Homo sapiens: one gene and its partners. The protein of the gene in region 5 interacts with the protein of the main gene of each other region in a biochemical or structural test. Each region holds a gene or a part of one and is shown on either strand. Other genes may lie near its edges. The genes, in order: SMAD2, CRIPTO, OTUB1, NEDD4L and ACVR1B.

Region 1 (5,782 bases), on a different chromosome or scaffold from region 5:
TTACAGACCCATCAAATTCAGAGAGGTTCTGCTTAGGTTTACTCTCCAATGTTAACCGAAATGCCACGGTAGAAATGACAAGAAGGCATATAGGTATGTTTTATTTTCCTTGTTGTGAAAAATAAATGCTGTATACTCATAATGTAGGCATTGCATGGTGTGCCACATCAAGAGCTTGTGTGCAGTAAAACCAGCTTTCTCTCTGGTGGTTTAAGTGCCGACACATTTAAGTGCACAGGCTTCACTGCTTCTAATAGATCCTGGTGATGCTTCAGCTGCAAACTCTTCAACTTTTATTTGGCACCCTTGGTACTGGAAAGTTCTTCAATAAATATGTGTTAAGATAAGTTTAATTTGCTGAGTCTCTACCAGTCATAAAATTGCCATGTTCAGATTTGGGGGTTAATACTTTTTTATAAATCATGTTTTTTTGTTTTGTTTTGTTTTTGTTTTTTTTCAGTTTCTTTATATAGCTCCCAGGTTTTTTCCCCCTTTGGTGAGTTTATATATTAAATGAAATCTGCTTGCTGTTCATCTGAAATGAGATATCTAAAACAAGAACTGCATTTAATATAGTTCAAAATATAATTCAGGGACATCTCAAAATGTGGTCTGGGGACTTCTGGTAGTCCCAGAAACCCTTTCAGCTAGTTTGTGAGGTCAAAGCTATTTTCATAGTAGTACTGAGATGCTGTTTGCCATTTCTACTCTCATACTCTCATGACTGTACAGTGGAGTATTCCAGAGCCTACATGCATATGATTTTGCAAGAGATGAAATGTAGATTTGATAATGAGACTCCAATTCTGTTACACTAGACATGAATGTTGAAATGTTGCCACTCTATTTTTTTTTTTTTTTTTTTTTGCTTTGGAAATATAGTTGTTTTTCATAGACAAAAATGGTGAAATGTTGCCACTCTATTTTTTTTTTTTTTGCTTTGGAAATACAGTTGTTTTTTATAAACATTGTTAATATGTAATGGATTTGATTTTTAAATGAATTTTTTAAATCTCAGTTTTTATATCTAATATGGTCATTTTCCATAATATTCACATAAACAAAAGCTCTTTGGGGTCCTCAGTATTTCCTTAACGATGAAGTGAAAAAGTGTGAGAACCATTCATAATTGAACATCATTCTCATCACCTTAAAGTAACTTCTTTTAACAGTAGTTTGCTTCTGTTTTTTTTCTAATTAACCATTACCTCCTGTGAGAAGTAATGCTGGTTATCAAAGTGTGATTTTGATACTGCAAAATGATAGTGACTAGAAGATCTATTACTTGGTTCCAAGTGGAAGTTCTCAAATCTTGCTTGATGTATAAATTTGGATAATCTTATTAAGATACCCAGTGTCGCTGTAGGTGCTTTAACTAAAATAGTTTTTTGTTTTTGTGACTTAATTGGGGTTCTGCAAAAAAATTTAATGGGTTTTCTCTGCCTTATTCTCTTCTCCCTCCAAAGTTTTAGATTGCTGTCGTTATTGGATTTTTTTAAATTTTTTATTTCTAGTTTTATAGGTGATATTGATCAGGGAATATAGCCTGAAAAATCTCTACTTTTTGGACTTAGTGTTTTCCCAATGACCACGTGCATGACTGTTTTACAGATATTCCATAGTCTTAACAGAACCACCGTACCAGGTTCTGTATTAAATCTGGAGTGTTAGTTGTTTGATTAGTTTTCTTTTGCTGTGTAACAAATTACCACAAACTCAGTGGCCTAAAACATCAGTTTTTTACCTCACGGTTTCTGTGGGTCAGGAGTCCAGACATGGGTTAGGCGGTCTTTTCAGGGTTTAACAAGGCCAAAATTGAGGTATCAGCTGGCTTGTGTTCTTATCTGGAGCTTGAGGTCCTCTTCTAAACCCACATGGTTGTGGCAGAATTCAGCTCCTAGATGCCTCCTGAATTCCTTGTCACATGGTGCCATCCATCTTCAAAGTCAGCAATGGAGAATGTCTCTTGTGTTGAATACCTTTCATGCTTTGAATCACTTAGCCTATGACAGTCTAGTCCCTTTTAAAGGATTGCCTGATTAAGGTTAACTGATTTGCTGCCTTAATTACATCTGAAAAAATCCTTAACAGCAGCACCTAGTGTTTGATTAACAGAGAATGTATGTGCACCTCAGGGCTGAGACTCTTAGGTGTCATGTTAGAACTCTGCTTCTCACAATTTTTTTTTTAATTCTTATATCTCATATTATTTTGCATCTGTGATCTCTCAGATTCTGAAAGAAGTATATTAAAAATCTCCCAGTAGAATTTTTTCTCACCTAATCATGCTTATACATCTAGAGGTTGGGTTTCCACCATAATATATAGTTTTTAAAATGGCAAATGACTTTTTGATGTTTTTACATCTTTTTTCTTAACATTAAGTGGGATCTCTAAGAAACTACAGTTGTAATGAAGATATATTTCTCCAAACATTAGTGAATTCCTTCAAAATTAACTCAATCTTTTACTTATCTTAATATATATCATTTGTATGAAACTATTTTACTATGTGTACTTTTTCTACATTGTTTAAATACTTTCAGTCAGTACACATGTATTTTAAAATCAATAAAATTATTGTTAGAAAATACTTGGGAGAAATATACAGTAGTATATTTAAAGTTAGACTTCAGAAAGACATTATCTGTGAAAAAGATCCTGGAAATACCTTATATCATTTTAGAATTTTTCCAAGAAAATGCTTCCAAAGTCACACTGAAATAGTAAATGTTACAAAACTAATCTCATTTGTATTTTGTTTCAGGAAGAGGAGTGCGCTTATACTACATAGGTGGGGAAGTTTTTGCTGAGTGCCTAAGTGATAGTGCAATCTTTGTGCAGAGCCCCAATTGTAATCAGAGATATGGCTGGCACCCTGCAACAGTGTGTAAAATTCCACCAGGTATGGATTCAATAATGTACATAAACCTATCATGTCAACTTGCTTAGTTTTTCTTGTTGCTAATTTTAGGAATCAGTAGATGATTGCATGCTCATATTCTAAAACTTGTAACCCTTTTAAAATTACTTTTTAATAATGATACTCTTTTGACAATTTCTTTTACCTTTTTTAATCATAGGCTGTAATCTGAAGATCTTCAACAACCAGGAATTTGCTGCTCTTCTGGCTCAGTCTGTTAATCAGGGTTTTGAAGCCGTCTATCAGCTAACTAGAATGTGCACCATAAGAATGAGTTTTGTGAAAGGGTGGGGAGCAGAATACCGGTATGAAATACATATTTGGTTCTTAAATTTCCACAGTGTAATTATGTTTCATTGCATTCTTGCATATTCTGGAGTTCATTTGTATCTATTTTCAATGAGGTTATAGAGTCAGCTGATCTTTATGTAAAATAAAGTTGGAGGCCTCCAAATTCAAAACTGTTGCAAATTACTGAGCTGCCATTATGGAAGATATTAAAACATGCACAGGCGTGCATTTTAACGTAATTCAGAGTGTTAAATATCATAAAAGGGGTGTATATGAAGGGTTATGTCAGTTTATGGAAGGAGAGATGTTTGCACACGGTGCTCAAGGAAAACTTGATGGCACATGATCTAGTTGTAAAAGGTGCATTGGATTTCAATAGTCATAAATGGGGTGGGCAGAGTTGGGAAGTGATAATCTTGACAATAGCATAGCAATTCAGTTTGGAGAATAGAAAAATAAGGCTGGACAATTAAATTGAGACAAACTAGATGTAGGTTAAGAGGAGGAACTTCATTCAGAAGTAGAAGGAATACTTGCTAATGTGCCAGGCACTGTGCTGTTTTAAGTGTAGTATCTAAAAATTATTATTTCTGTTGTCAATTCATTCTTTGTAAGGTTGAAATATATGAAATTGCCATCGTTGCAGGTAACACATGGTTCAAACTAATACATATTTGGAAATAGACATAGAAAGCTGATAATTTGCCCAAGGTTACATTATAAGTGGTTGAGATGGGACTGGAAGATAGTTCTCCTGGACTCTTTACCTCTTTTATAAGGATAGTAGTAACAATTATGTTTAAGTTTTACAAAAACTAATTTGTCATCAGTGGATAAGATAGTCTAGATTATTGATGAATTAAACAATAGATTGGATTTCACATCAAAGAGAGAGAAGACTTCTTGACCATATTTAAGAGTAGGAATTAAGTAAAATACTTAGTCTTTCTTCAATTCGTATTGCTTACTCCATATGCCTGCTTAAGAAATATTCATGTAATATAGTGATTGTATTCCTGCTTCTTCCAGCAATTTAGTCCCTTCCAAATTTATTTGTTTTGGACTTGCTTGTCTATCTTAAGTTTTGTCAGAAATCTGATTTGAGATTGTGCAATGTGAGGTCTACTTGTTGAATACATTTAAAAATATATGGTATATATTTGTATCAGAGAATGAAGACTTGTCACTATTTTTTTCTGAGTTATATTGGTAGAATAATTCATTTTGTGATTTTGCTGTAGTTCTGTTTTGATTATTACCCTTTTGAGATGTTGTTACCTGTTAAGAATGCTGAATGCCGTTTTTTAAAATTAGACTTGACCTGAGTTGATAGCAAAATTAGATTTAAATTATATTGTCTAATAAGATTTCAGGTCAGACTTTTTTTTGTTCTTCAGAAGGTTAGAATAATGCAAAATATGGTAGGAATTTAGTGGAAGTAAGAGTGAATTACAGAGAGAATTCCATGTGTATCTATAGATCTGCTAAGAACAGTTTTACTTGGTAAAGATACTGCCCTTCTTCATTCACTGTGGACTCTGCTGTTCTTTAACTCACAGATAAAGTAAAATCTGTAATTACAGAAGCAGTAATATGCAGTATGTTTTTATGAGTATTGGGAGTCAGGTACATCTGACTTTGGAAAATCAAGTAGTTTCCTGTAACATTTACAAATCAAAATGGCAAATATCCATCTATCTGTGGATATGTGGGTAGCTACCAGGAACTTACTGTCTGTAATCATTCTGGAGCTGAGGAAATAGACCTAATGTTTAGGTTTCTAAAACTATTTTTTTTAAATTTCCTTAATGTCATCTTGGTTGTTAGCACAAAAATGAGGAAATGTAGTAAACAGGAAATTTAGATGTATGAAGAATTTGTATTTAATCGAGTGGCAGCCTTCTTAAACCTACTCCCCTTGGGTGACCTGGATTATGGATTATTCTAGAAAGGGAAGTGGGACAGGGGAGAACAGGGCAGCCAGGACCATTGTTAAGCCATCTACCAGAGTGGGTGGGTCACTAGAACTGACACCCTTGGGGAAACTCTAGGAAACAGTAAACAGTCTACAGAATTATCCTACCCAGGGGAACAGAAGTGCTGGGCATGTAAATGTCAATTTCTGTTTCCTTGGTTGAGGGCTGCTCCTGGGGATGCTTCTTTCCTGGCACCTCTAGCCTTTTTGGGTATATCAGAGAAGTTCCTGGGCACAGAAATGCAGATACCTGCAGTTGGAAGTTGTCTAGAGCACACTGAAAAATCCAAAGGGTACAGTGGGGCACTGATACCATCTGCCTCAGAAAGTGACATCCTTGGAAGTACAGTTTTAAATTACATTGAACATGTGTTGCTTGGAGATGAAGAGTTGATAATGGGCTTTTCTCATATTTGAAGGGCTGTTAGTTTGTAGAAGCAAGTGGATTTATTGACTTTATTCTGTATAGCAAATAAGATGGAACTAAAATCAGCGCATGGAAGTGACAGGATGTCATTGAATAATTTGTAATTCTCTTAGAGTTGCCCCTTTTGTTGAAGCACTATTAAAAGCCCGAATGGTGTTGCTAAGAG
Region 2 (6,416 bases), on a different chromosome or scaffold from region 5:
CTCACGTGTGTAATCTCAGCACTTCGAGAGGCTGAGGCGAGTGGATCACAAGGTCAGGAGTTCGAGACCAGACTGGCCAATATGGTGAAACCCCCATCTCTACTAAAAATACAAAAAAATTAGCTGGGCATGGTGACACATGCCTGTAATCCCAGTTACTTGGGAGGCTGAGGCAGGAGAATGGCTTGAACCCCGGATGCGGAGGTTGCAGTGAACCAAGATCGCGTCATTGCAGTCCAGCCTGGGTGACAGAGTGAGACTCCGTCTCAAAAAAAAAAAAAAAAAGAAACACTGGACTTAGGCACAATGGAGATATGGCTGACTTTCTTTTGAAAAAAGAAGTAGTTTTTTGGGAGAGGGCAGGGCAAAGAAGTAAGAAGTAGTTCTGTAAGGAAATGTTAGAGACCATTTTGGAAATGTATTCATTATTTTAAGGCAACTACAAATGATCATCTTTCAGTTAGGACATTGTAGCAGCAGCCTTTACTGGTCATGAAATTTGCATGATATCTAAAATTGTATTTCTGGAAATAGGTCAATGTCGATTAATAGTAGCTTTGTATAGAAAGGCAGATGCCAACTAGCATAAAAGTGGTAGTACGTGCAGACGGTGGTAGTTCTGGAGTCCTGGAAGCCACGAGGTGCTCATCCATCACAAGGCCATCTGGAAGGTAGGGATGCTTGGTCATTAAAGCAAACCTCTCTGGCAGTTCATCCTGCTGCCCACAAATGTGGCATATCTATACGCTACTGTGAACCTGCTCTTCTCAGGACACTCACACCTGGAACCTAGCCCAGTGGTGATGCCTTCACTTGCAGGAATGAGCACAACCTGGTTAGATTCTGATTGGGCCCCATGTTCCAGGAAGAGAACATGTTCCCTACACATCCAATCACCCAACCCACACTTATCAAACACCTATCCTGAGCCTGACACCCAGGATGCAAATGGCAAAGACACAATCCCTGTCTGGATTGGGGAATTCCTTCCTGTTCTCAGTGAAATGTTTGCTTTCATTTACTTCCTGGACTTGAATATTTTCCATTTCTAACATCTCCAAGGCCCAGAACTATAATAGGTCTCTGAATTTGGGGGGCCCTAGAAACCTGGCTCAGGCTAGGGTGGAGAGAGGACTGTCGCCTCTTTTCCTCTCCAGGTGCTGCCCTTCTTTTCATTGTATTCCTCAAATCAGTAAAAATCAAGAAGGTGAAAGGGTTCTGTGACCAGTCATGGTAAGGGTTCTGTGACCAGTCATGGTAAGGTATGGGGAGGGGGTTACCAGGGACTTTTAGGACTCTGGAAGTTTCTAAAGGACTAGCAAGGGGCCAAGCCTCTGATAGAATTTGTCGTCAGGGTGGGCTCTAAATGAGCTGCCCATCCTGGTTTGGGTCCCCCTACCCAAAGGAAAGGAACACCAGAGAACATCTCTTGGTTTAACAAGAGACCGAGACTTGTTTATTTTCCTCAATAGAAGTTCAGACCATAAAATGTCAAATAGACTTGAAATACATCTCTATCTGAAAGGCAGCAGGACTAGCCAGGTTCCCGAGGAAATAAATATCAAAGAGGCCAAGGCAACTATCTCATCAGGAGTCTGCGATGCTTTTATAAGCAGAACTTTGGCTGCCAGGCTCTAGCAAGACAAGAGGTACAAGGAGAGCCTGCTAACTAAGCACCCCCCAAGGCAACTACGTAACTTCAAAGGGCAAAAGAAAGAGGAGAACCTCCGCTTACCACAGCCGGGTAGAAATGCCTGAGGAAAGCAGCGGAGCTGACCGTGCCAGCATTTACACAGGGAACACTTCTTGGGCAGCCAGGTGTCATGGGGCACAGACCCACAGTTCCTGAGAATGAACAGGTAAGGCGATAGCCTTGGGTCTGAAATTTCCACTTCCCTTTCTCTCTCCTCTCCACGGCTCCCCGCCCCTCTGAATTGCTTACTCTTTGCGCACATCGTGCTCACAGTTCCGTCCGTAGAAGGAGGGAGGGCAGGCACAAAAGGACCCCAGCATGCAGGTTCCCCCATTCAGGCAGCAGGTTCTGTTTAGCTCCTTACCTGAAAGGTAAGAACAGATGACTGAGGGTGTAGGGATGGAAAAGTGCAAGGGCAATTCCTGTAAGCGAAGGTTAATACAACACCAATGTGTTGTATCAGAGTAAGTCTCTGTGCCTTTGAGCAGAGAAGTCATTTTCATGCATAGGCCAGTGGTGGTTCTGGGTTCCCCAGTGTGAAGTGGACTCAGGGGAGGAAAACTGCACTCTAGGGAAGTAAAATACACAATCCTTGTCTCACTTCCAAAACCAAAAGCAGTCCAGCACCTGCACAGTTCCAGAACCAGGTGCCCTTTTAGGTGAAAGAGTGTTGGAAAGATACTCAGGAGACACATGAAGGGCCAGGGCAGAAGCATCGAAGTCAGGCAGTTCTTACTGTGCTGTATCCCCATGGGCGGCACACGCTGGGAAGACCGAGGCCGAATTGCAGGCTCCTCCTGGGGCCAAATGCTGTCATCTCTGAAGGCCAGGTATCCCCGAGATGGACGAGCAAATTCCTGATGGCCCAGCCCTTAACGACAAAATCAATTCATGGAGTCTGTATTTTAGGCCACATAAAAATTGAGAGTGATCAAAAGAACAAAAGGTCTCTCACCGGCAACTAATCCCAGTTCAAAGACTTTAGAAATGGCCATGATCCAAATCACACTAGGAAGAGGAAGTCAGACATGAGTTAGCCAAACAAAGGAAATAAAACCTTACAAGTTAACACCCAGGTCCTCTCATCACAAGGACAAGACCACAGATCACTGAAAAGAAATTGTAGAGCACCATCTTTCTTTTTTTAATGGCTAATTCATGTAACAAAGAAAAATGTTGAAAAAAAGTCACCAATATCCAAGTCTTTTTAATATATATTATTATTTCTTAGGCCCTGTCCTCACATAAGTACCTAATTTTAAGTAGGTATATGTCTTTTATCTTCTATTTCACATGTTTTCCCCTGCATACAATTTTCATATAAGGATTAAAAAATAGCTGCATCCCATGTTACCGATGAATCATTTTACAAACTACTGTATTTATTTATTTATTTTTGAGAGGGAGTTTCGGTTTTTCACCCAGGCTGGAGTGCAATGGTGCGATCTCGGCTCACTGCCTCCCCTCCCCAGTTCAAGCAATTCTCCTGCCTCAGCCTCCAGAGTAGCTGGGATTACAGGTGCCCGCCACCATGCTTGGCTAATTTTTGTATTTTTAATAGAGACGGGGTTTTGCCATGTTGGCCAGGCTGGTCTCCTGACCTCAGGTGATCCACCCGCCTCTGCCTCCCAAAGTGCTAGGATTACAGGCGTGAGCCACCGCACCCGGCCAAACTATTTTAACCAATCACTTAAAAGGTTTTTAGGTAAAAAATGTGGGTTTTTTTTTTTTTTTTTGCTATTATCTTAATAGTTTTGCCAAGTATTGAATCTGCTTATACCTTTAATCTTTTCGGAAGATTTTAAATTTGGTTGTAGTACTGACCTTTATTTGTACAAGAATAAAGAAACACTATTTCATAGGCAGAGTCATTAACATAAAATGAAAATTAACATTAACACGAAAATGTTAAAAGCCAATGGCAAAGTTAGAAGTAACCATGTGAAATTCCAGGTCTTTCAGGAAAAACAGCAGTGCGGTTGGCAGCTCTTTTAAGGCTTGAGCAAGAGAAAAATCAAATGACAGGTGTAGAACATTACTTCCTAAGCTGGCAATCTCTAGCAATCAAAAAAAGTTCACATTCAAGATTAGCTCATACCTGTAAGAGAAGCGGGCCATCTTCCTGCAGTCCATAGCTTTTAACAATTAGGGGGAAAAGAGGCGTTAGCATCGCTTTAATTCAGAGTCATTGCCAAAACAGCCAAAGGAAAACATTCATCTCCTAAAGCGAAAATGGCAATTTAAGAAGAAAATGAGAAATTCGTTTTCCCCAGAAGGTCGTAGCAGAAGCAGGAGCAAGGCGTCCAGGGGAAACTGGAGGGCTTTCGGCCTTGGACGTTTTGACCTTGAGCTGGAGACTCAGCCTTTCCGGGGATTCTCCTTCTTCAACAACAAACCCCAGTCGGGGCGGGGAGACCTTTCAGGTGGGCGGGACGCCCACCAGCATGACAATGGCCCACACGCGGGAAGAGGAGTCTTGTAAAACTGTGGTTAACTAGCCCTAATATCTCTATCATTAGTTGCAGGCTAAAATGATCAGAGGTACTCTTTTGGGAAAAAAAAAGAAAAAAGAAAAATCAGTTTCTCTAATCAAGTTGGTGATTCCAGGTTGGAGGGGTGGTGGAAAGTAATTGCTTTAATTAGGAAAACCTGAAAATGTATGGGTCTCAAGGCATTCGATATTTTATTTTATTTCAGGAAGTTTTACTTCCTGAAATTTGCTTCCACCTTTGTTTTTCCAGAAGGGTGTTTTGAGCCCCGTACTCCCCCTGGGGGATACCCGGGTGGCCAAGAAAGGGGTGCTCTCCGCCTGAGGAGCTAGGTGTGTGTGTGTGGGGAAGACTAGGAAGCTTGAAACTGAGATAGAAGTTCAGGGTCAGGAGGGGTTCCTTGGGGGCTCCAGACTTGAAGTGCAAATTCCAGGCGGACGTGAATTCCTGAAAGGACGCGGGAGCCGGCGCCAGGTGCCCGGGAGAGGGGAGGGGCGGCCAGAGGCGCAGCAGCTGGGACTCTCCAGTGGGAGTGCCGGCCTGTTCCAGGAAAAAGTTCTAGAACCACGGCAGTCCGGCATGGGAGGCCATTTCAGCCCCCAATCACGGGAATTTATCTCAGCCTCCCAGCTCCCACAGGGCGGCCTCTTCCAGCCCCTCGCCGTCCTGGCCCCACGACACCGAGAATTACCCCCGGACTCTGATGTGCCGCTTGCAGGGGTAAACGTGTTTATTGAGTGGTTCCACTAAGTGCCAGACGCCCCAGATGGAGAGGCGCGTCTATGAGCCGGAGTCGCCTCACCTAACATTTCAATCCTCCGGGTTATTTCATGTGTTATTAAATACGCCCAAAGTCGTTAATAGTTTCTAAATCGCATTTAATTCCAATTTCTAAAGGAAAGCCTGACGGTTACTTAATGTTGCCAGGCACACAAATGCGAAACTTTTATTAGATAGTTGTTTCCATCCATCTCTGTTTATTGGATTTAGGCCTCGGCAGAAAGAATTGGTAGCATCTGAGGCCATTTCAGCGTCAGTGCCTACCTGTGTGAATGCCATGGATCCACAGGTGCTGGGAAGAGGTGTTATTTACTTCTACACATGATTTTTTTTTTTTTTTTTTTTTTTTTTTTGCGACAGAGTCTCCCTCTGTTACCCGGGCTGGAGTGCAATGGCACGATCTTGGCTCACTGCAACCTCCACCTCCTGGGTTCAAGTGATTCTCCTGCCTCATTCTCCTGCCTCAACCTCCTGAGTAGCTGGGATTACAGGCGCCCGCCACAACGCCCGGCTAATTTTTGTATTTTCAGTAGAGACAGGGTTTCACCATGTTGGTCAGTCTGGTCTCAAATTCCTGACCTCATGATCCACCCGCCTCGGCCTCCCAAAGTGCTGGGATTACAGGCATGAGCTACCGCGCCCGGCCTTACACATGATCTTGGGAGAAGCAAACGTAAAATAATTTGTATTGGGGGAGTGAGGCCCCATCCAGTCAATGGTGGGATGCAGCAACATTTCCAACTCCACAGCAGTTGACTATTTCATTCCTGCTGCGCTTCGCCTCCTCCCTGTGTGGCCTTTTCAGGTGAAATGCTTCAGGTAGCATGCTGAGATTCACAGGGGACAGGGGAACATGGCCTGAAGCTCTAGGAGGCCGGAGGTGGGGGAGGGCTCCGCAAAGGAGAAGGCTAGCCCTGGAGCTGCAAGGAGGTTTAAAGATGTTACTCAGTGTGGTACATTTGTAAGGTAGCTTGTGCACCACAGTCCTCACCAGTCCAAGGTGCTAAGTAGATAAGTAGCGCCCACAATATTAGTCTCACTTTATGGACAAGACAACTAGTTCTATTGGGGGATTTGGATGTCTTGTCTTTAGAGACTGGGCAGGCCTGTGGCAGAACTGGCAAAAGAACACACCCCTGCGTTGCTATTTCCTTATCTAAAGCTCTTGTGGAATTTTTAGAGCTTAAATAGGACCCCTGGAAATCACTGCATTTTCAGAGGAAGTAACTGAGGTCTCCAGTCTGGCGATGTTGTCATTGACGGGACCAGAACCCCAGGATGCCAGCTTTTCAGCCACACAAAATCCCTTCTCTAAGGACCAGAACCCCCTGAAGAGATTCCCATTCCCCATAGGTACTGACTGCAGAGGAAGCCAAGTGGATCCAGGGTATTCAGAGCCTGGGCCAGGTTTTGGGATGGGGGGTGGGGAGAAGGGGAAGGGAAGGGCTGTGGTG
Region 3 (5,782 bases), on a different chromosome or scaffold from region 5:
GGGGTCATGTGACAGGAAGAAGGGGGTGAAATAGGACCATTTACAACCACAGAAAAACCTCTGTACATGTCTAGCGCCTGGCAGAGGGGGGCAGCAGGGCAGCAGCGGGCTGGAGCCAGCCCTATTTGTAGAGGATATCGTAGTGTCCAGGCCGGTAGAGAAGGTAGACCTTGGGCTCGGAGCCCTCAGGGAAGATGTGCGGATTGGTGGTGCCGCCCTCGCCGCGGTCCATGTACTCCACCTGGATGGACACGCTGAGGGCCTGGGCCAGCGCAATGATGTGGATGTGGTCGCTCTCCTTGCACATGGGCTCCACCTCCTGTGGCACAGGTGCCGGTCAGGCCCTGGTCTCCGCACCCCGCCCCAGGCCCTGTGGGCCCACTGCACTCCCCCGGCCGAGAGTAAAGGGGAGGGGGACGGCACCTGCTGGCAGAACTCCTTGACAGTCCGTCCACCCTCGATGAAGTGCTCGAAGAACTTGCTCTCGCGCTGCAGGTAGCCCGAGGTGAGCAGCCGCAGGTAGACCACAAGGTAGTCGGAGGTGCTCTGGTCATTGAAGGAGGCCAGCAGGTCGGCGACAGAGGTCTGCTTCTCCACCTGCTCAATCAGGTCCATGAACTGCAGCCACGGAGGGAGAAAGGGCAAGATGACGGGGAGGAGATGGGTGGTCCTCACCAGGTGAACCCCTCCCCCATGGCCCAGCCCAAGACAGGCACCAGGGCTCACCGTGTTGTGGAAATCCTCAATTGTGAATTCAGTGAAGCCCTGGGACACCAGGTCTTCCTTGCTCTTGGCAGACACAGCCTTGAACCTGGGGGTGGGATGGAAAGGCGGGCCCAGCATGGGCTCCTCGACCAGCCCAGACGCCAGGGCCGAGACAGCACTGCCCCGCCTGGCAAGGCCAGAGTCCAGCCCATCGCCCGGGAAGGAGGGAGACACCCTACTCGAGACACATCCTACTCGCCCGGGGAGGAGGTAGACACCCACCTGCCTCGGTGCCCAGTGCCCACCCTTCTCACCGCTGCAACTCCTTGCTGTCATCCAGCAGTGCCTCCAAGTGGGAGAATCCGAAAGCCCGATAGAAACAGTTGCCGTCAGGCCTGGTCTTGCGGATGTACGAGTACTTTTTGTGGAGGTCCTGCGGAGACAGCCCCACCCCGACAGGTTAACATCAGGCCAGAACGGGGGCTGGCCAAGGAAATGTCCCCCAGCAAAGGTCACACTCCAAAGGTGGCAACTGAGCTCCCAGCAGCCACCTGCCACCCTGGGTCCCTGAAACAGGCTGCTGAATGTGGCAATGGGAGCGGCCCACTGCCCAGAGTCCTCCCAAAAGACGGCAGGAAGCTGGGCACTTAAGGACAAACTAGTTGCATGGGTCACTAAAGTTCTGCGGGGCCTACAGGACTGTACAACAACAGGTGAGTGAATGTCCTTGAGCAATGCGTTTCCTCCAGTCTTTCAGCCCAAGAGAACTTCAGGGCAAGCAAGTCAGGGCCAGGGTGGAGTGCTGGCCTCCACGCCTCAACCAGGTGGCTGGGGCCCTCTGCACAGCCCAGCTCAGCCCCGCTCCCGCCACACTGAGAAGAGTTCCCCCACCTCTAAGCCTTGCCCGCAGCCCTCCTGGGGCTAGAAACAGCCTCCCTCCTCTACTTGTTTTTTTGAGACAGAGTTTTGCTCTTGTTGCCCAGGCTGGAGTGCAGTGGCGCGATCTCGGCTCACTGCAACCTACACCTCCCGGGTTCAAACGATTCCCCTGCCTCAGCCTCCCAAGTAGCTGGGATTACAGGTGCCCACCCACCACGCACACTTCACCTGGCAAGCACACTTCACTCCCCTGGCCTGGGCACCCTCCCCTCTCCCCTACCCATCTTGCTCCTACCCCCAGCTGATGACCTTGTCTTTTTTCCTCAGCCCCCACCAGCACATCTGCCTTTGGCCTCCTCCCACAATCCTCAGAGGATCTGTTCCAGCTGCCACCTAAGCTGCCTCTCCACTCCACACTAGCCCACCCCCACCCTCAGGCTCAAGCACATCATTCCAAGCTGGGCGCCATGGCTCACACCTATAATCCCAACATTTTGGGAGGCCAAGGTGGGAGGACGCTTAAGCCTAGGAGTTCGAGACCAGCCTGGGCAACACAGTGAGACCCCCGTCTCTCTAAAAAAAATAAGTGGCTGGGCGCGATGGCTCACGCTTGTAATCGCAGCACTTTGGGAGGCTGAGGTGGTTGGATCACCTGAGGTCGGGAGTTCGAGACCAGCATGACCAACATGGCGAAACTCCATCTCTACTGAAAATATAAAATTAGCTCGGCATGGTGGTGCATGCCTGTAATCCCAGCTACTCGGGAGGCTGAAGCAGGAGAATCGCTTGAACCCGGGAAGCAGAGGTTGCAGTGAGCCGAGATTGCGCCATCGCACTCCAGCCTGGGCAACAGAGCAAAACTCCATCTTGAAAAATAAGCAAGTGAGCTGCACATGGTGGTGCATCCTGTGGTCCCAGCCACTCGAGAGGCTGAGGTCGGAGGACTGTGTGGGCCCAGGAGGTCGAGGCTACAGTGAGCTGTGATGGCACCACTACACTCTAGCGTGGGTGACAGAGTGCGTGAGACCCTATCTCAAAAAAAAAAGACATCATCCTAGGAAGTACCCCCATCATCAATTTTTCCCACCCTACTGGTTTAGACCCAACAGCATATACACATTCAGCTACTTCTTTAAAAGGAAGGGAATCCTGGACTTTACGTTTCTGTCTGGCTACCCTTCAATTTCTCTGCTTTCTTTACAGCAAAACTCCTCATGAAGCTGTCCGTGCTGCCTCCACCTCTTTTCTCCCTCGGGAGGCTTTTGCTCTAGCCAAGGTCAGCTGAACGCCCTCAATCAGAGGGGGCAAACCCAGCGCCCCACCCCCACTGGCCCCTTAGCAGAACTGAGGCCACTGGCTGTGGCCCTGCCTAGATGCCTCCTTCCCTGGGCTGGCGCCCCCACCCTCTCCTTGTCTTCCTCCTGCCTCCAAGGCCACTCCTCATCTCTCTAAGCTCTGAGGGTCAGGGATGCCACCAAACCATACAGCACCCTTCGAGACATGGTGTGTCACCTGCAAGAAAACAGTCACTGAGGCTGGGTGTGGTGGCTCACGCCTATAATCCCAGCACTTTGGGAGGCTGAGGCAGGCAGATATCGAGGTCAAGAGATCAAGACCATCCTGGCCAACATGGTGAAACCCCGTCTCTACTAAAAATACAAAAATTAACTGGGCGTGGTGGCACACACCTGTAGTTCCAGCTACTCTGGAGGCTGAGGCAAGAGAATCACTTGAACCCAGGAGGTGGAGATTGCAGTGAGCCGAGATCGCTCCACTGCACTCCAGCCTGGGCAACAAAGGGAGACTCCGTTTCAAAAAAGGAAAAAGGAAAACAGTCACTGCACACTTAGCCACTGTGCCTGCCATGTGACCACGGGCATGAGGGCTGTCTCCCATGTGCCTACCCCGCCCTGCTCAGGCCTGGGACAGCTTCCACTTTTCTTTTTTTTTTCTTTTCTGAGACAGGGCTTTCTATGTCACCTGGGCTGGAGTGCAGTGGCAAGATCACGGCTCACTGCAGCATCAACCTACCAGGCTCAAGCAATTCTCCCACCTCAGATTTCAGAGTAGCTGGAACTACAGGTGCACACCGCCACACCCATTTAATTGTTGTATTTTTTGTAGAGACGGGATTTCACCATATTGCCCAGGCTGGTCTCGAACTCCTGGGCTCATGTGATCTGCCTGCCACGGCCTCCCAAAGTGCCGCACCCGGCCAGCTTCCTCTTTGAAACTACACTCACTCTCATGGCCAGGTACAGTGGCTCACACCTGTAATCCCAGTGTTTTGGGAGGCCAAGGGGGGAGGATCAAGTTGAAGGCTAGCCTGGGCAACACAACAAGACCTCATCTCTACAAAAATGTAAATTATACTTGCTCTCTTGACGACATCAGTCTCAAGCAATTTTTTTTTTTTTTTTTTGAGACAGTCTCGCTCTGTCGTCCAGGCTGGAGTGCAGTAGCGCGATCTCGGTTCACTGCAACCTCCGCCTTCCGGGTTCAAGCAATTCTCCTGTCTCAGCCTCCTGAGTAGCTGGGACTACAGGCGCGCGCCACTATGCCCGGCTAATTTTTTTGTATTTTTAGTAGAGATGGGGTTTCACCATGTTGGCCAGGCTGGTTTTGAACTCCTGCCCTCAAGTGATCCACCCACCTTGGCCTCCCAAAGTGCTAGGATTACAGGCATGAGCCATTGCCCCTAGCCAAAGTCTCAAGGATTTAAATAGCCCCAAGTGTGAATCTCAACTCTCAACTCCAATTACGATCCTCCTATCTACCAGCCTCACCACACCTCCTCTGAACTGTCCAACAGGCATTTCCACTGAGTGCAGCTGAGATCAACCTCCGAACAACTGCTCCTCCCCGAGGCTGCCCCACCTCAGTCACCCACAGCACCCAAAGCCTTCCAGTCGCTGCCGACTCCATCACCATATCCATCCCTTCAATATGTCTGGTATCCAACTGCTTCTTACTCCTCACCTCTACCACCCGCTGCCCGCCTCCAGCAGATTTTACTGCACAAGTCTCCTGGCAGTGTCCCTGCCTCCCCTTCACCCTCTGGAGTTTATTCTCACCCCAGCAAGAGAATGGCCAGGGTCGGCTTGGCGTGATGGCCCAGGCCTGTAATCCCAGCACTTTGGGAGGCCAAAGTGGGTGGATCATTTGAGGTCAGGAGTTCAAGACCAGCCTAGCCAATATGGTGAAACCCCGCCTCTACTAAAAATACAAAAATTAGCCAGGCATGGTGGTGGGCATCTGTAATCCCAGCACTTTGGGAGGCCAAAGTGGGTGGATCATTTGAGGTCAGGAGTTCAAGACCAGCCTAGCCAATATGGTGAAACCCCACCTCTACTAAAAATACAAAAATTAGCCAGGCATGGTGGCGAGCATCTGTAATCCCAGCTACTCAGGAGGCTGAGGCAGGAGAATTGCTTGAACCCGGGAGGTGGAGGTTGCAGTGAGCTGAGATGGTGCCATTGCACTCCAGTGCACTCCAGCCTGGGTGACAGGGCAACACTCTCTCTCAAAAAAAAAGAAAAGTGACCAGAGTCACCTGCCAGATGCACCCTATCTCCATCTCCCTCAGAGTCCTTTCTCTCGCCACAACACCCCACCCCGCCCCGCCCCGCTCAGTTCCCCAGCCCCAACCCCTCATTCTCCACCAGCCACACTGGCCTCCATGCTGGCCTCAAACCATCCAGGTGCCCTCTCGCCTCGGGCCTGGGTGGGCACTGCTCTCGGACGCCTGTGACTCGCTCCCCGGTCTTTTTCTGTTCATTACTCAAATACCACCTCATCAGCAAGGCCTTCACCAAGCCCTGTTTAAAATGGCAAATGCTCCCACTCCCAATCCCCTCTTTTTTTTTTTTGAGGTGGAGTTTTGCTCTGGTCACTCAGGCTGGAGTGCAGTGGCACAATCTCGGCTCACCGCAACCTCCACTTCCCAGGTTCAAGAGATTCTGCTGCCTCAGCCTAAGTAGCTGGGATTACAGGGATGCGCCACCACACCCGGCTAATTTTGTATTTTTAGTAGAGACGAGGTTTCACCATGTTAGTCATGCTGGTCTCGAACTCCTGACCTCAGGTGATCCACCTGCCTCAGCCTCCCAGTGTGCTGGGATTACAGGCGTGAGCCACCACGCCCGGCCCCGATCCCCTTTTCATTTTTCTCCACAGCACTCACCGCCTTCTGATACCC
Region 4 (5,782 bases), on a different chromosome or scaffold from region 5:
GAAAAGATTAACCTGCTTTCAATGTAAATGAGAAACCATGAAGGAGTAACCAAGGGCCTTCTACAGTATTGCACAAGCGAGGAGGCGAGATCAGGGGGAGAGTGGCATGAGGAGGGCAGCTGTGCTAAGAGAGATGGCGCAGCAGAGTGGGGCCAGAAAGGCCTCTGGGAGGTGACAGATGAGCTTCAAGGTCAAGCAGAGTCCGCAGTGCAAATCAGGCGTAGGAATTGGGGGAGAAAAGGGCACACTAAGCAGAGGAACAAGGCTGGGGACTTGCCAGCCGTTTGCCAGGGCGGGTAGACAGGCCAGAGAAGGGGCCGGCAGTGCAGAGCCCACATGGGGTGCTGGAGAGTTGGGGTGCTCTCTGAGGGCAGTGGGGAGTCAGTGAAAGGCCAGGTGAAATTCCATCTGTCTTCTGTTATCATTGCTTGGGCAGCGATGGGGAGAAAGCACAGGAAGGGGACAGGCTGGAAATGGGGAAGGCCCCGGAGAGGGCCTGTGCAACCCCCCGCGGAGGGACGGCAGAGGCCTCAGGGAGGCAACAGCAGCGAGGTCGGCCTCCCACCATTCAGGCGTCCTGCAGGTGCCTCCATTTCACCTGATCCAAAGGCATCACGCACCTCCTCACAGGGGGTCCTGACCCCACCAGACCTGGCACCCCAGGCTCCTGCTTCTGCTCCTTCATCCCCCCACCAGGCACCCACCCTCTGCAGTACAGGCCAATTCTCCCCGGCTCAGCGTGGCCCTATGCAGGCTCCAATAGACTCCAGTGTCTGGGGAAGTAAAAGCATGAAGCCGACCAGGGGGAGCAGCGGACAGATGTGCAGAATGAGCCCTGCCGACAGGGACATTCCCATCGGACAGATGTGCAGAATGAGCCCTGCCGACAGGGACATTCCCATCTGTGGGAAATTTGAAGACACTGCTGACTAGGCCCATCTATGTGCACTTGGACTCTTAAATGTGCAATTCCAGGTTTATATCGTGATCACTCTTGTCGGGGTCACTTTAGCCAGCTCCTTGAGACCCTGAGTGGTTCCTGCTTCCGCCCATCTTCTTCCACAAGGCCTTGACTCTGGGCTGGTCCTCACTCATCTGAAATGACCCCAGCCTTTGAACGCTCAAATGCTACCCCACCTCCGAGGTGCAGCTCATCCTGGGAAAGATTCCCTGAGCCTCCAGCCAAGTCACTTTCTCCTCTGAGGACTCAATGCACTCCCTTCTGCTCAGACACTATCACTGTGATTCTTCTGGTTTTGTTCTCATCTCTTTTCCCCCCGCTAAAATATAAGCTGACTAAGGTCAGGATCATATCTTATGCTTCTCTATTACCCCCTGTTAGAGAGGGTATTAAAGACACTGTAGCAACTAACAGCATCTTCTCACTTGCATACGGTGACTAAACTGACCTTCTGAGAAAGTTGGAGTGAATTGGAGCAGGCTGAAACAATCTATGGCATGACTCCAAAGCTGGAAATTAAAATATATTCACACTATACATACATGGAAAGAGTGTGTGGTTTAGTTTCCTTCTAGAGGAAAAAAAGTGTTTACTGTCGCCCTGCTACCAAATAAAGCAACAAAATCAGAGCATCAATATCAGCTACCAATTAACAGTAAAAACATATTCATGGGAAAAGTACAGAGGGTATACAAATTATTTATTAGAATAGCTAAGGCTCTATAAATGCAATGAACACAGTTCCCTTGGAAATATCTTTCTTATAAGTTACTGCAATGTCAATCTCAAATCCTACTCTCCCTCTTCCCATCCTCAACCACTCTACCTCCAGGCTCTTAAAAAGTATTTCTGATGCTTTTTTCTCACTGATGATTTCTGTAGTGTTTTCTTAAGGACACTATTTTGAATTGGCCAAATCTTTTAGAAGTCTCTAAGCCTATAGATACCGCCAGGTAGAGGGTTTGACTTCTAACTTTCAAGGTACCTTGAAATTCTTCCATGATCTATATGCTTTAAATAAGAATGAAATTATTTTGTGTTATTTGTTTCAGGGTTAATGTCTTAGCTAAGCAGTAACATTATTTTGAAATTATTTAGTCCCTTCAAATTAAAAAATAATTTGGGGACAAACGCAATAATCACAGGATATTAGATAGATGAGATCATTTTAATTAACTTTTCAATTAGTTTTTCCATCTGTTATCAAATCTTGCTTTCACTAAAGTTATTCCAGAAAACATACAAATGTATAAATACATAATGTTCTGTGTTTTACACTGAAGTTAAAAAAAAACTTTTGTTTTTAACTGTGTGTAGACACTATGTCTTCAGTGCCCAAAATAAGCTACCAGAGAAAAGGACATCCATTATGGGCAAAACATAAAAATACTTTATGAGTAAACCAGTGAAGCTTTTGCTTAAAAACCCATGATGCGAAAGATAAGACACCTACTAGCAAACCGCAAGCAGCACTGACCTATTTTTATTACTTCAAGACTTACCATCTAAGAGCTTCCCATGAAATACGGCCAGACCAGCAACTCTTCCAATAAAAGTGAAGTAGGACAAATGATCCTCATTACAGAGGCCTGAATTAGGGTTGATCTGAAGGGTGTAGTTGTCCCTTTTGAGGAGAAAGAGAAGAAAAGCCCAATCACACTTTCAAATGCAAGATTTTGCATATTTGTTTGCCACCTGTCACTCAACTTTTACAGTGTCCCTGCGAGCATTCTGTACCTAGTGGGAAAATGTGTGGGCTAGAGGACCTGACTTACCACATGCTCAACCGTGACCCACCATGGAGGCTGACGCATGTGCCCTCTAAAGTCAATTAAACCATAAGAGACGCTGATGTTTGACTGTTTTTGACCTACGAAGTGTCTATTTCATATGGTTCAGCCAAATATCTTGGGGAGATGAGAAACGCCACATAATAAAGGGGCTGTGCAGGGATTCCCAAAGATGTGAGTACTTTAGGTCGTCTCTGTGATGAAGGAAGTTTAATTCCTTCCAGAGGCTTTTGGCTTGGCCATAAGATGTTTGCTATGGGCCCAACCCTTGGTCTGTCTTCTGACCACTACTCTGCTCTGAAAAGGCCTCGAGGGGATTAGGAACAGGATATGGCTCTCTCAATGATGCAAACCTGCAAATTTTTAGATTTGTCCAAATGATCTTGCTTGGTTCACAATCATGTGGATCAGTAGTTTTCAAACTGGGATCACAGACTGATTCCTCCGGGGTGGGGGTATCTTTGAAAATGTGGAGAAGAGGTAAAGATCTTGTCTCTCTCCACCCTGCCCTCCACCTTCAATAGTTGGATACATTGTACATAGTGGGCTTTCTCATGGGACTCAGTAACAACAAATCAATTGGGCAATTCTTGGCTAGAGCAACCAGGAAGAATGTACTGAGGCGGCCTTCCAAATGAGCCCCCAGGAGACTGGTACCAGGTGGGAGATGTGGGGGAACCCACGTCCCCTTAGAGCCCAGGGCTGGAGTGATGACAAATGCCCTTCAGCAAGGTCAATGACTATTCTACTGGGGGCTTGGGTACTGCCCAACCCTTGGAGGATTCAGAGTCTGAAGGAGGAATGGCTGGCCTGGAAGTAGCTGATGTTTAATTGCTCAGAAAGCAATTTAGTCTGCCTCAGTTTCCAAGCCTGGCAATGATGAAATCCTAATGCAAGGGGAAACCTGGTTCTTTCCTTACAGGAGCAGGGCATGGTCCTAGGTCCTCAAAGTCCTTACAATTTGCCTTTACACAGGAGACCTCAGAAACGACTCTTGTTCAAAAAACACCTCCTTTGTTTTTGAATTCTAACACTGACAAGTCCTCCTCTTGAACACTGCAAATGAAAATCGCCTCCTGTTCCTTATCATAATTATCCACGTTTTCAATTTCAACTCCATGAACCCAATAGACAAGAAAAAAAATCAATGTTAGATGTTCGCAGAGTACACTATTTCACCACGTAGAGTCAGAACCTGTTCTAGACTTGCAAGGGGCTGTGGGGTGAGGAGAGAACAAACTCAGCAGAGTTAATGCATCTCGAACTCATGAGCTGCTTATCCTTTCATTCTGTTTAAATTCATACAACTGTCTCAGTGGGGGACACACACTGGGTGTGGCCATATACTTACGTGGCAGAGTACTCAAAGAGGCCGTAGTAGGGGTTGAACATCTCTTTGGACAGTAAGAAGAACCATTCTCTGGCCACACCCCCATAGTCAAGACCTTTCTCTGATTCAAACTCAATCCACAGTCTAGCTTTTAGGACATCTGGTCTTTTCACGGACATAATTCTCCGATAGGACTCTTCAAATATGTTATTTCTGTGAAGTTTCATTTCAAACCTATTGGGGATATCAGCCTACACAAAAGACAAAAGAAAACACATAATCATACAGTAAATACACACTTTGTTTTCTAATAAAAACAACAGCAAATGGTAGAAAAGTTGGCAGTCCTCAAAGAAACAGGCAGTGACAAATGGTTCCAACTGAGATTCTCTCCTTTAGGGGTTTTCCCTTGCAGACAGAAAGCCTTGCTGTGTCACGATGGGACACACGGCATCCACTAGCGATGCTCAGGAAAGTTAGAACTCTGCTGCGAAGGAGAACATCCTCCTTGCCCCCTTTAATAAACAACTGTGGGCACTTCTCCAGCATAGGGCAACCGAAAGGCAGTCGACTGTATCTGTTGCTTCACTCAAGAGACTTTAGCCCAGGTAGTCAAAACCTGTAATAATCCCCACCTGGCCAGGTTGGGCCTATCCATGCTCAACTGTGGCAGGGCCGCCAGGTGGTAGATATAATCCACGCTGCCTCAAGTCCATTTTGTTGCCATGGGGAGTGGGATCCTGATTATGCCAAGTGTGGGGAAAGCAGCCCAAAGCATGGTTCGCTGACATGAAAATAACAAAACACTTGACCAAGGTTGTGGCAACTGCCTCCTGCAAAGAGGCGGTCCAGGCTTGGTCTGGCTGTAAGAATGAATGTGCAGAGATGGTTTCCGGGTAGCAGACACTGCTATGTGAGAGCCATAGAGTGAGACTGGGTGATGACCACAGTCATCATCATTACCAGGGGACATGACTCACAAAGAAAACTGTGGAATTTTCAGTGATCATTTGAGTTTTGAAGGCAAAGAATCATTTCAATAGCAGTTACCCGCAAGCTCTTGAATCAGGACTTTGGAACAGAGACCAAAACCCCTAAATGAGAGCAGACATTGTGCCCCATCCAGAGATGTTCCCGGGCAGGAGGAACCAGCTGAGGGGAGGAGGCAGGGAGAGATGGCAATGGAGCCCAGGCCACCAGAGGGGGTCTGAGCTGCAGCCGCTTCTCTCCCCTCCCTAGAGGTGTAACCATAGTGATGGAGAAAATTGAAGAGAAAACTGCTAAGGAGGAATCGGAAAGTAAAACAGAGGATGCAATGTTGAACAATTTGGGGATGGTGTGTCATTAGAAAATGCAATGTTATAATTTAAAATGTTGCCCATAAAAATTTTTAGAGTTTCTAGGTTTTAAACTGCCAGGGATAATTATAAGTAGAAAATTACATTTGGACGTAATACTGCCAATTATTATAATTAAATATAACACTATATTATAAATACTGTAGTTGAAACTAAGCTTTTGCATTTACAAGGAAGGACTTGAACATTTTTCTTACCGGGATCCAGGTTAATTAAATATGATAACTGCGCATAATTGAATAGGCTTCCACAGATTTTGTGACTAGGGTTCTGAATTATTTTATATCCCATAAAAATCATTCCTGTCTTTTTATGTATTACATAGGAAATTACCCTTCAGGTG
Region 5 (5,782 bases):
TCTCAGAGTCTCCATGCCATTAGGAGGTAAATAGAAAAGGTGTCTGTCTCAAACCCAACATGGGAGTGAGCGAGTCTCTCCCGGGCTCTGTCCCTCTTGCGGGCCAGGGCTCCTGGCCACAGAGGGCTGGGCAGAAACGAGAGGTAGGCCTCCATCGTACGCTCAACGCGGCAGCTGTGCGTAGTTCTCGCTGCCAGGAGCTCCGTGTGGAGAGAGGGAGCAGTTAGATCTTCACGTCTTCCTGCACGCTGAGCTGGGAGAGGGTCTTCTTGATGCGCAGGGCCGTCAGGCGGGCTGCGCCGTTGGCATACCAACACTCTCGCATCATCTTCCCCATCACCCGCAGTGCCTGTGCAGAGACCCAGGAGCCATCAGCTCGGTCATGCCCTGGAGAAGCCTTTCTGGTCCCTAGGCTCTCACTCATTTCCCTGCCACCTCCCGCTCAGTGCAGTCTGGCAGATCCACATCCACCCGGCGGCCGACCTTAGGGAAATGCTCTGCAAGGCTCCCTTTGTTCCCTGGCTCTTCCTTTTTTTTTTTTTTTTTTTTTTTTTTTTTTTTTTTTTTTAGAAGGAGTCTCACTCTGTCACCCAGGCTGGAGTGCAGTGGCGCAATCTTGGCTCACCGCAACCTCCGCCTCCCGGGTTCAAGTGATTCTCCTGTCTCAGCCTCCCCAGTAGCTGGGACTACAGGCACACACCACTACGCCCAGCTGATTTTTGTATTTTTAGTAGAGATGGGGTTTTACCATATTGGTTGGCCAGGATGGTCTCGCTCTCTCGACCTTGTGATCTGCCCACCTCGGCCTCCCAAAGTGCTGGGATTACAGGCATGAGCCACCGCGCCAGGCGGCTCTTCCTTTTTAAGGGACAGCTTACACAAGTGAAAGGCAAACGCTGCAGCTAACGGCCAGCTCTTTTGGTCTCACCTGCCCTCTGAAGCAAACCCTGCCCTGAGGGTTCCAAGGAGTGCGGTGAGAAGTGCTGCTCTATGATGCAACACGAAAGCATCAGCTAATATGCAATTCTGTTCTGAAATGCAGAAATGCCCTCTAGTGGTTAGACTCGTTAAAGGCAGAGCCAACCTCTCTACTTGACTAGGTAAGTTCTGGGGCTCTAATGGACGGCAAGGTGACTAGAGTCAACAATACTGTACACCTGAAATGTGCTAACAGTAGGTCTCAACTGCTCTCACTACACACACAAGCAACAAGGTGAGGTGACAGATGTGTTCACTAACTTGTGTGGTAATCATGTCACAATACATACATGTATCAATTCAGCACTTTGTACACCTTTGTTACAATTTCATTTGTCAATCACACCTCGATAGAGTTGGGAAAAAAATAAGTAAAAGGAAATGCAGAACCGCAAGTGAAAAGGAGGCCCATGAGCACTTAGCTAGGCGAAGCCTGTTCCCCTGAACACTCTTAAGACCCTAGAATTCCATGTTTATTAGTACGTATGTCACAAACATGTCCTCATGTCAACTCTTTCCACCAAATGTTGTTTCCCCCACACCCCTGATTTCATCTGCCGTCTCTCCCAAATTCACATTCTCCATCCCAATCCCAGCCCTGTCATACACATCACCTCCTCCCTTCTGAGTTTCTGGAAAGACCACTTTCCTCACAGGCATGTCCTCCTCCTCTGTCTGGTCTCAGGGCTTCTCTTATGGACACCTCCTCCTCACTCTTCCATGGAGCTCAGCTCAGCTCGGGCTCCAGAGCTGCTTTCCTAGTTTGGTGTCTAACAGCTCTGGGTTCAGTTGTCACTTGTTGACCACCTCCCTCATCTGTGTCTTGGAGACAAAGCCTTGTCCTTTTTCTTTTATGAGACAGGGTCTTGCTCTGTTGCCCAGGCTGAAACGCAGTGGCCCAATCATGGCTCACTGCAGCCTTGACCTCCTAGGCTCAAGCAATCCTCCCACCTCAGCCTCCCAAGTACCTGGGACTACAGGTGGTGTGCCACCAAGCCTAATTTTTTATTTCTTGTAGAGATGGGGTCTCCCCACATTGCCCAGGTTTGTCTCGAACTTCTGAGCTCAAGCTATCTTCCTGCCTCAGCCTCTCAAAGCGCTACGATTACAGGCCTATGCCACCACACCAGGCCCAAAGCCTTTTCTTCTTCTAGGCTGTGAACTCCAAATGGCACCCTACAGGGTCCAGGACAAGAGACTGTAGCCCTAAAGGGCTTGGGATATGTAAAATAGCACGTAATAGTAAATAATAACTGACACTCTCAGGGGGCTCCTCTGGGGCCTGACCCCATTGTCAAGAAACCCTTTTCTAAGGTGGAGAAATCAGGCTGATGGGAAAGCCGCAGGAGGCCAGCTTCTTACCTCATAACTCTGCCACCAGTTGGGGATGTTGGGACGCAGCTTCTGATCACATACAACCTTTCGCATTTCCTCAATGGAAGGGTCAGAGGGCACTAAGTCGTAATATGGCAGCTGATATTCTTCATGGACTCCTGGGAGAAAAGAAAGTATCTACCTGAGTTATCAACAGCAGGAAAAGATTACTCAGAAGCCGGTGACAAAACCTACACTGTGCTCTGTAAATACCACTACCCCCTAAGGTTCCTTAGAAAGTTAGTTAATTCTAAGTATGGAACAAGAAATACACAAAAGGGGCCGGGCATGGTGGCTCATGCCTGTAATCCCAGCACTTTGGGAGGCCAAGGCAAGCGGATCACCTGAGATCAGTAGTTTGAAACCAGCCCCGCCAACACGGTAAAACCCCATCTCTACTAAAAATACAAAAATTAACCAGGCATGGTGGCAAACACCTGTAGTCCCAGCTACTAGGGAGGCTGAGGCAGGAGAATAGCTTGAACCCTGGAGGCAGAGGTTGCAGTGAGCAGAGATCATGCCACTGCACTCCAGCCTGGACAAGAGTGCAAGACTCTGTCTCAAACAAAACAACTAAACAAAAAGAAATACAAAAGAGTAGCCAGGAACATTTTTTTTCATAGCCAAAGCAAGGAATCTATCAAAGACTACTGGGGGTCACATCAAAAGGCACCAACTTGATAAGCTCCCAACTGAGCAAAGATGGGAACTTTTAAGTAACAATAAGACAAATAACTTCAATGGAAACAAATATTTTTAAAGTCTAAAAAAGGAAATTTCAGTCACCTACCTCTGTGGGAGGCTACAGAACCACCTCATTATTTTGAAAAATGGTAAATAAGTGGAAAGAATCAAGTATTTTTTCTGCCTCTCCTATTCCAACTATATATCATGGGAACCAAATACATATGTAGGGGAAGTAATCATTCGCTTAGTTTTGGACAATATCACCACGGCACGTTAACGACACAAAAATAGAGAACCAATGCTACGCAACTTGTCACAGAAGGACAGAGGAACCCCTGTGAAGGATACGTGTCCCCGAACCCCCAGAAATGATTCTAGCTGCCAGATCTAACTACCAATTCATAGGAAATACCAGGAAGAGTAGAATATGTGAACTCTACCTAAGCAATCTGCAAAATCTAGCCTGGGAAATTCTACAGGACAAATGACCTGGATTCTCCGAAAAAACAGAGTGGGAAGAAAAAATGAGGGGGAACATGTAGACAAGAAATGTAGGAGGTGTATTCATCAACTGCAGGGGATAAAACTTATTGGAACCCCGATTTGAACAAACTGCTTTAAAAATTTAGGAGACTGGGGAAATCTCAACACTGACTAGATGTTAAGTGACATTAATGTTTGCCAGGCACAATGGCTCACACCTCTAATTCTAGCACTTTGGGAGGCCGAGGTGGAAGGATTGCTTGAACACAGGAGTTCAAGACCAGCCTGGGCAACATGGCAAAACCCTTGTCTCCACAAAAAATACAAAAATTAGTAGGGCATGGTGGTGCACCTGTAGTCCCAAGCTACTCAGGAGGCTGGAGTGAAAGGTTCCCCTGAGCCTGGAGAGGTGGAGGCTACAGTGAGCTGTGATCACGCCACTGCACTCCAGCCTGGGTGACAGTGAGACTCTGTCTCAAAAAAAAAAAAAAAAAAAAAAGCACTAAATTTGTGTGTGTGTGTGTGAGTTTCACTCTTGCCACCCAGGCTGGAGTGCAATGGCGCAATCTCAGCTTAATGCAACTTCCACCTGCCGGGTACAAGCGATTCTTCTGCCTCAGCCTCCGAGTAGCTGGGATTACAGGTGCCTGCCACCATGCCCGGCTAATTTTTGTATTTTTAGTAGATTCGGGGTTTCACCATGTTGGCCAAGCTGGTCTTGAACTCCTGACCTCGGGTGATCTGCCCGCCTCAGCCTCCCAAAGTGCTGGGATTACAGGTGCGAGCCACCGCACCTGACCCCTAATGTTCATTTTTTTTTCCTTTTTTGAGACGGAGTCTCCACTGTTGCCCAGGCTGGAGTGCAGTGGCACGATCTCGGCTTGCTGCAACTTCCACTTCCTTGGTTCACGTGATTCTCCTTCCTCAGCCTCCCAAGTAGCTGGGACTACAGGCGTACGCTACCATACCTGGCAATTTTTTTGTATTTTTAGTACAGACGGGGTTTCACTATGTTGGCCAGACTGGTTGCAAACTCCTGACCTTGTGATCAGCCCACCTCGGCCTCCAAAAGTGCTGAGATTACAGGCATGAGCCACCGCGCCCGGCCTAATGTTCATTTTTTAAAGTGTGGTAATAGCACTGCATTTTTTTAAGTCCTCATCTTTAAGAACTACAAACTTAGAAAGATTTTCCATAATAAAAAGATAGTTTTAAAAAGCCAATTTAGGCCAGGCACAGTGGCTCACGCTTATAATCCTAGCACTTTGGGAGGCTAAGGCAGGTGGACCACCTGAGGTCAGGAGTTCGAGACCAGCCTGGCCAACACAATGAAGCCCCATCACTACTAAAAACAGAAAAATCAGCCCGCAGTGGTGGTGGGCACCTGTAATCCCAGCTACTCGGGAGGCTGAGGCAGGAGACTGGCTTGAACCCAGGAGGCGGAGGTTGCAGTGAGCTAAGATTGTGCCATGGCAATACAGCCTGGGTGACAAAGAGAAACCCTCTCTCAAAAAAATAAAAATAAAAAGCCAATTAATTTTTCTCAAGCCCTTTTCCAGAAAAAGAAAAACAAAACAAAACAAAAAAACCCTGCTGTCTTGAGCTAATGAGACAATTTTTTTTCTTTTAAGTAGAGATGGAGTCTCTCCTACCTCAACCTCCTGAGTAGCTGAGATTACAGGCGCCCGCCACTACACCCGGCTAATTTTTGTATTTTTAATAGAGATAGGGCTTCACATTGGCCAGGCTGGTCTCGAACTCCCAGGTGATCCGCCCACCTTGGCCTCCCAAAGTGCTGGGATTACAGGCGTGAGCCACCATGCCTGGCCTTTATGTCTGGCTAATTTTTTTATTTTTGTAAAGATAGAGTTTCACCATGTAGCCCAAGCTGGTCTCAAACTCCTGGCCTCAGGTAATCAGCCCACCCTGGCCTCTCAAAGTGCTGGGATTACAGGTGTGACACAGTGCCCAGCCTGGGAAATATTTTTAAATAGAGAATTGGACTTGGTAATTATCTAAGGGGTAGTTACAGGCTTAAGCCCTGGCCTCAGCCTGTCCGAGTCTGAACCCTTGTTTACTAAAATAGTTATGTGACCTTAGACAAATTTCCTAACTTCTCTGTGACTCATTTTCTTCATTTGTAAAATGGCGATGATAATAGCACCTACTTATTATTTACTTGTAGTAGTAAAGATTAAATGAGCTTATACATAGCAAGTGGTGAATAAATGTTAGCATTATTATATATTTAGCCTCAATT

Evidence for each region.
Region 1: of the proteins of ACVR1B (region 5) and SMAD2, one has a biochemical effect on the other in vitro, tested with the Homo sapiens proteins (one study listed by BioGRID).
Region 2: the proteins of ACVR1B (region 5) and CRIPTO form a complex in vitro, tested with the Homo sapiens proteins (2 studies listed by BioGRID).
Region 3: of the proteins of ACVR1B (region 5) and OTUB1, one has a biochemical effect on the other in vitro, tested with the Homo sapiens proteins (one study listed by BioGRID).
Region 4: of the proteins of ACVR1B (region 5) and NEDD4L, one has a biochemical effect on the other in vitro, tested with the Homo sapiens proteins (one large-scale study listed by BioGRID).

What each region holds. Positions count from the first base shown.
Region 1 is NC_000018.10:47,842,786-47,848,567, reverse strand, and holds part of SMAD2 (mothers against decapentaplegic homolog 2), read left to right. Parts: coding exon 1-93; intron 94-2,767; coding exon 2,768-2,905; intron 2,906-3,083; coding exon 3,084-3,228; intron 3,229-5,782. UniProt on the Homo sapiens protein: Receptor-regulated SMAD (R-SMAD) that is an intracellular signal transducer and transcriptional modulator activated by TGF-beta (transforming growth factor) and activin type 1 receptor kinases.
Region 2 is NC_000003.12:46,575,380-46,581,795, reverse strand, and holds the start of CRIPTO (protein Cripto isoform 1 precursor), read right to left. Parts: upstream 4,009-6,416; 5' UTR 3,827-4,008; coding exon 3,792-3,826; intron 2,702-3,791; coding exon 2,649-2,701; intron 2,565-2,648; coding exon 2,430-2,564; intron 2,058-2,429; coding exon 1,943-2,057; intron 1,846-1,942; coding exon 1,736-1,845; intron 665-1,735; coding exon 546-664; 3' UTR 1-545. UniProt on the Homo sapiens protein: GPI-anchored cell membrane protein involved in Nodal signaling. Cell-associated CRIPTO acts as a Nodal coreceptor in cis. Shedding of CRIPTO by TMEM8A modulates Nodal signaling by allowing soluble CRIPTO to act as a Nodal coreceptor on other cells.
Region 3 is NC_000011.10:63,991,886-63,997,667, reverse strand, and holds part of OTUB1 (ubiquitin thioesterase OTUB1), read right to left. Parts: intron 1,139-5,782; coding exon 1,020-1,138; exon of another isoform or gene 812-1,019; coding exon 727-811; intron 619-726; coding exon 424-618; intron 320-423; coding exon 122-319; 3' UTR 1-121. UniProt on the Homo sapiens protein: Hydrolase that can specifically remove 'Lys-48'-linked conjugated ubiquitin from proteins and plays an important regulatory role at the level of protein turnover by preventing degradation.
Region 4 is NC_000018.10:58,364,549-58,370,330, reverse strand, and holds part of NEDD4L (E3 ubiquitin-protein ligase NEDD4-like), read right to left. Parts: intron 4,333-5,782; coding exon 4,103-4,332; intron 2,586-4,102; coding exon 2,464-2,585; intron 1-2,463. UniProt on the Homo sapiens protein: E3 ubiquitin-protein ligase that mediates the polyubiquitination of lysine and cysteine residues on target proteins and is thereby implicated in the regulation of various signaling pathways including autophagy, innate immunity or DNA repair.
Region 5 is NC_000012.12:51,988,552-51,994,333, reverse strand, and holds part of ACVR1B (activin receptor type-1B isoform a precursor), read right to left. Parts: intron 2,472-5,782; coding exon 2,341-2,471; intron 350-2,340; coding exon 224-349; 3' UTR 1-223. UniProt on the Homo sapiens protein: Transmembrane serine/threonine kinase activin type-1 receptor forming an activin receptor complex with activin receptor type-2 (ACVR2A or ACVR2B).